2 linked regions of the Homo sapiens genome follow. Each later gene encodes a partner of the first gene's protein in a complex. Each region holds a gene or a part of one and is shown on either strand. Other genes may lie near its edges.

Region 1 (3,500 bases):
CGAGACAGAGTCTCACTCTGTCACCCAGGCTGGAGTGCAGTGGTGCAATCTCGACTCACTGCAACCTCTACCTCCCAGGTTCAAGTGATTCTCCTGCCTCAGCCTCCCAAGTATCTGGGACTGCAGGCATGCACCACCACGCCCGGGTAATTTTTGTATTTTTAGTAGAGATGGGGTTTCACTATGTTGGCCAGGTTGGTCTTGAACTCCTGACCTCATGATCTGCCTTCCTCAGCCTCCCCAAGTGCTGGGATTACAGGCGTGAGCCACCGCGCCAGCTAATGAAAAATATTTTGAAAAATAATCAGGCCAGGCGCGGTGGCTCACACCTGTAATCCCAGCACTTACGGAGACTGAGGTGGGTGGATCACCTGAGGTCGGGAGTTCGATACCAGCCTGACCAACATGGAGAAACCTCATCTCTACTAAAAATACAAAATTAGCTGGGCGTGGTGGTACATGCCTGTAATCCCAGCTACTCAGGAGGCTGAGGCAGGAGAATCGCTGGAACCTGGGAGGCGGAGGTTGCGGTGAGCCGAGATCGCGCCACTGCACTCCAGCATGGGCAATAAGAGTGAAACTCTGTCTCAAAAAGAAAAAAAAAAGAAAAGTAAGTTAAAAAAAAAAAAAGAAAAAAATTGATGGAAAGAGTGACATTGGTTGAAAGTTATGCAAGTCCTTTTAATGTTTGGCTTATTAGAAGACAGCTGGATTCTCATACCTGTTTGTGCACGTAACCTCTGGAAAAGTCCACTGTGCAGTCTTTTTTTTTTTTTAACTGTCTTTTTTTATAATCTTCAGACATGCTTTTTGTTTGTTTGTTTCTGAGACAGTCTTGCTCTTGCTTTGTCACCCAGGCTGGAGTGCAGTGGTACGACCTCAGCTCACTGCAACCTCTGCAGTTGAAGTGATTCTCATGCCTCAGCTTCCTGAGTAGCTGGAATTATAGCACGCACCGCCACGCCTGGCTAATTTTTGTATTTTCAGTAGAGATGGGGTTTCACCATGTTGGCCAGGCTGGTCTTGAACTCCTGACCTCAAATGATCTGCCTGTAATCCAAAGTGCTGGGATTACAGGTGTCAGCCACCGCACCTGTCCTGACACGTGCATTTAAAGCAAGAAACACACACTTCCAGGACATAGGGCTCTGTCAGCAATAACTGTCATCTTTGTATTTGCAGAGATGTAAATATATAAGAAACCGGCTGGGCACGGTGGCTCACACTGGTAATCTTAGCACTGTGGAAGACTGAGGGGGGCAGATTGCTTGAGTCCCAGAGTTTGAGACCAGCCTAGGCAATGGAGCGAAACCCTGTCTCTACTAAAAATTTAAAATATTAGCCGGGCATGGTGGTGCGCGCCCATAGTCCCAGCTACTTGGGAGTCTGAGGTGGGAGAAGGTACCCAAGCCTGGGAAGTCAAGGCTGTAGTCAGCTGTGTTCATGCCATTGAGCTCCAGCCTGGGCGACAGGAGTGAGACCCTGTCTCAAAAAAAAATAAAAATAAAAATAAAAAAATAAATAAATATATATATATATATATATATATGCAAGAAACCACTGCAAACCAAACCCACTCCCTCTCACAGGAACAAAGGTCTCTTGGAATAAATAGCAAATGCTGGAATAAAAACTATGTTCATTCAGCTGCCATGATGTGAATTCAAAAAGGAAGTTAAATCCAAGGGCAAAGCAGAGAAAAGAACATACAAAAATACACCTATTTCATGTACATTCAAAGAGGAGGCTAATCACTGTGGACAAAGGGCCCTCTGGAATGACAGCTGTAGGCAGCCAGCAGTGCCACGGAAATAGAGGCACTGTCATCTGGAGACACAGAAAAATCACATCCTCCCACAACTGGCCTCTATGAAAACCAACCAGGACAGACAACCCTTCCCCAAAAGTAATGGCCAAGAATAAAAGCACAAATATTGCTGGAAATCCAAGTAGCCTGTTTTACTGCTTTGAGTGACTTATATGCAAACCTAAGACTTTTTTCTGAATCCTTGATCAAGATTTATTCATATAAAGGCCGTACATAAATTCTGGGAACATGGTACTTTGGACTATATATTGGACTCTGAGCCAAAACGTTAAATACACTACACTGCGCCCCACTGTACAGTCTTCAGAGAATTAGAATTTAAAAGCAAGTAACATCTTAAGTAGTTTTAGGCCAGGTATGGTGGCTCATGCCTGCAATCCCAGCGCTTTGGGAGGCCGACGTGGGTGGATCACTTGAGGTCAGGAGTTTGAGACCAGCCTGGCCAACATAGTGAAACCCTGTCTCTACTAAAAATATAAAAATTAACCAGGTGTGTTGGTGCCCACCTGTAATCCCAGCTACTGGGGAGGCCGAGGCAGGAGAATCACTGGAACCCGGGAGGTGGAGGTTGTATTGAGCTGGGATGGCGCCACTGCACTTCAGCCTGGGTGACAGAGTGAGACTCCATCTCAAAAAAAAATAAAAACTAGTTTTGATCCTGTGGGACCCCCTAGAAGCAGCTCAGGTCCCCCAGAACCTCTTTGAGAAGTGCCAAATTGTCAGCTGTCATTACATTGCTTGGTTTTTGTTTGTTTCTTATTTCACACCTGGTGATCACAAATTATATGTTGCTAGTTTTAAAAGTTGCTTATTTATATATAAACATAATTTATAATTTAGAAATACTTATTTCTGCTTTTTTTCCTAGTGTTTATCTTCCTATTTGTATCTTTTTTTAGCTCCCATAGTCTCTTGTTCTTTTATTTAAACTTTTCCTATGTGGTTTGTCAGGTTTTTTTTTTTTTCAGGTTTAATTAAGGAATAATTGATTTACAATAAATTGCACACACTGTCATGTGACACATAATGACATTCAAGTCAATGACAGACCATATATACAGTGGTGATCCCATAAGATCATCATACCATATTTCTACTGTATCTTTTCTATGTTTAGCTGTGTTCATATACACAAATACTTACCATTGTGTTACAGTTGCCTACAGTGTTCAGCACAGTAATATGCTGTACAGCTTTTTTGTTTTGTTTTGTTTTCCTTAAAAAAAAAAAAACAAAAAATATTTAACAGTGAGATGGGGTTTCACTGTGTTGCCCAGGCTGGTTTCCAACTCCTGGGCTCAAGTGATCCTCCCGCCTCAGCCTTCCAAAGTGCTGGGATTATAGGCATGAGACACCACGCCCGGCCTACTGTACAGGTTTGCAGCCTAGGAGCAATAAGCCATACCATATAGCCTAGGTGTGTAGTAGGCTCTGCCACCTAGGTTGTGTAAGTCCATTCTGATGTTCATACAGGGAGAGAATCACCTGACGCATGACTGTATTTAGAGAGTACCCCTCAGGAGCCATCAGTGCAACAGAGGAAGTGAACGTACTCATTACCCGTCAAAGTTTCCTTGTGCCTCTTTTATTTCCCCCCTGTTTCCAGGCAACTGCTGATCTGTTTTCTCTCACTATAGATTAGTTCGTATTTTTTGGAATTATATTATGTGTG
Region 2 (2,722 bases), on another chromosome or scaffold:
ATAACTACGTTATACATTAGTGAATTTAAATTCACCTGAATACAAAGCATCAATTACAAAAAGCTTGTCAGTAACAACAGTAGACAAAAATGGAAGTGTAGCCAATGATGCATATGTCTTCAAAGCATCATGTTTAACCTTGAAGCAGCGTCTGAACAGGAAGTTTGAGAATATTCCAGAGAAACCAGCTGTTGTTCCAAATGTCGCCATTTGATATATATTTTGTGTCCTAATAGAAAAAAAGAAAAATTCAGTTCACTATACCATTGAACTTAATGGATACAGCCTCTCCTGAAAAGTTGTTATTGCATATCAATATCAAATATTTCTTGAGCACTTACTATATGTGAAAAGTATTTTCTAAGTGCTTAAGATAGGACAGTAAACAAAGCAAAAGAAAAAAAGAAATTTCCCACCCCTCATAGAACTTGTATTCTAATGAGAGGACATGATTCTCTTTCTAAGAATATTTACAGTAATTCTAAAATAGAGCTCTTTTAAATAATTTTGGCCACAAATAAATATAAATATGTTCCAATGCAGCCAAATTTTATGAGCTACCCAAATCCAAGAATACCTTTCCTGCAACTAAAAGATTTACTTTGCTTAAGTTCATCTAAAAAAAAGCTGTTTACATTTGGTTAGGCCTTCTATTTCTTCATTAGTCCCAGATACATTTAAAATAATTTGTCCTGAACAGACACTTCTCAAAAGAAGACATTTATGCAGCCAAAAAACACATGAAAAAATGCTCACCATCACTGGCCATCAGAGAAATGCAAATCAAAACCACAATGAGATACCATCTCACATGAATTAGAATGGCAATCATTAAAAAGTCAGGAAACAACAGGTGCTGGAGAGGATGTGGAGAAATAGGAACACTTTTACACTGTTGGTGGGACTGTAAACTAGTTCAACCATTGTGGAAGTCAGTGTCACGATTCCTCAGGGATCTAGAACTAGAAATACCATTTGACCCAGCCATCCCATTACTGGGTATATACCCAAAGGACTATAAATCATGCTGCTATAAAGACACATGCACACGTATGTTTATTGTGGCACTATTCACAATAGCAAAGACTTGGAACCAACCCAAATGTCCAGCAATGATAGACTGGATTAAGAAAATGTGGCACATATACACCATGGAATACTATGCAGCCATAAAAAATGATGAGTTCATGTCCTTTGTAGGGACATGGATGAAGTTGGAAATCATCATTCTCAGTAAACTATTGCAAGAACAAAAAACCAAACACCGCATATTCTCACTCATAGGTGGGAAATGAACAATGAGAACACATGGACACAGGAAGGGGAACATCACACTCTGGGGACTGTTGTGGGGTGGGAGGAGAGGGGAGGGATAGCTTTAGGAGATCTACCTAATGCTAAATGATGAGTTAATGGGTGCAGCACACCAGCATGGCACATGTATACATATGTAACTAACCTGCACATTGTGCACATGTACCCTAAAACTTAAAGTATAATAATAATAAAATAAAAAAAAATAAAAGGGAATGAGGGAACTTTTTGGGGATGTTGGAAGTATTCCAAATTTTAATTGTGGTGATGGTTACATAACTGTATAAATTTGCTAAAACTCATATAACTGTACACTTTAAATGGATGAATGTCAAGATATATAAATTATACTTCAATAAAGCCATAAAACAGAAAATGAAATAAAATAAAATAAAATAAAATAATTTGTCCAAGATTTATAAAACTTCATCCAAAAAAATCTGATTTAGTTTTCTTATTAAGACCCATATGTAAATCCAGGAAATAACATCAACTGTCCTTTGATTTTTTTCTTGAACTTTGTTCATTTAAAAGTCAAAATGGCCAGTCTGGCCAACATGGTTAAACCATCTCTACTAAAAATACAAAAATTAGCTGGTTGTGGTGGTACACGCCTGTAATCCCAGCTACTTGGGAGGCTGAGGCAGGAGAATCACTTGAACCTGGGAGCTGGAGATTGCAGTGAGCCGAGATTGTGCCACTGCACTCCAGCCTGGGTGACAGAGTGAGACTCTTATCTCAAAAAAAAAAGTCAATATGTTAATGTGAGACTATATTTATACCATGAAATCTGTATTCCCTTTTGCTGTACTAAGTACTGTGGCTGAGATAATCAATCCTAAACTGATTATAATTACTCACCAATTAAATATAAGTACCCCCCTCAATGGTTTTCTCCTAATTACTTTTAATTAAAATACATTTACTGCACAAAAGTTTTAGCAATACTTTTGGATACTTTTTAAGAAACAAAAGAAATTATCCACAATCCGAAATATTCCAACAAACCACCATTTTCATCTGTTCTTGTTTCCCCCATTCTTTTTTTTAAAGATGTGTTCTTCATAGCCAACTCAAAGAATAGGATCTTAGATAACAGAAAAGGTAAGAAAGAATAGGATCTTAGAAACAATGGCAATACAAAAGACTTGCAAATAAAATGACTGATTTTCAGCCTGGGCATTTCTCTTACATTTCTTTTCTAAGATAGTCAAAATTTTTTTCTATGATTTCTATGACCATTGGTCTTCTGAGTTTTGCATCTTCTAGAGAAGGACTGGGCTGACCATGCATAGATGCTGCCATCTTGAAAACCTGGAAAAAAAAATTCCAGAGCCATAATAGCTAATGATATTCATATTACATAAAACCTTACAGAATTCTACAGATTCAGATTTGAAAACATTTA

Evidence for each region. Proteins that work in one complex are often made in the same cells at the same time.
Region 2: ACAD9 (region 1) and TMEM126B share a complex: the UniProt entries of both Homo sapiens proteins name them as parts of the mitochondrial complex.

The regions. Positions count from the first base shown.
Region 1 is NC_000003.12:128,886,120-128,889,619, forward strand, and holds part of ACAD9 (complex I assembly factor ACAD9, mitochondrial), read left to right. Parts: intron 1-3,500. UniProt on the Homo sapiens protein: As part of the MCIA complex, primarily participates in the assembly of the mitochondrial complex I and therefore plays a role in oxidative phosphorylation.
Region 2 is NC_000011.10:85,631,593-85,634,314, reverse strand, and holds part of TMEM126B (complex I assembly factor TMEM126B, mitochondrial), read right to left. Parts: intron 2,629-2,722; coding exon 2,507-2,628; intron 230-2,506; coding exon 36-229; coding exon of another isoform or gene 10-35; exon of another isoform or gene 1-9. UniProt on the Homo sapiens protein: As part of the MCIA complex, involved in the assembly of the mitochondrial complex I. Participates in constructing the membrane arm of complex I.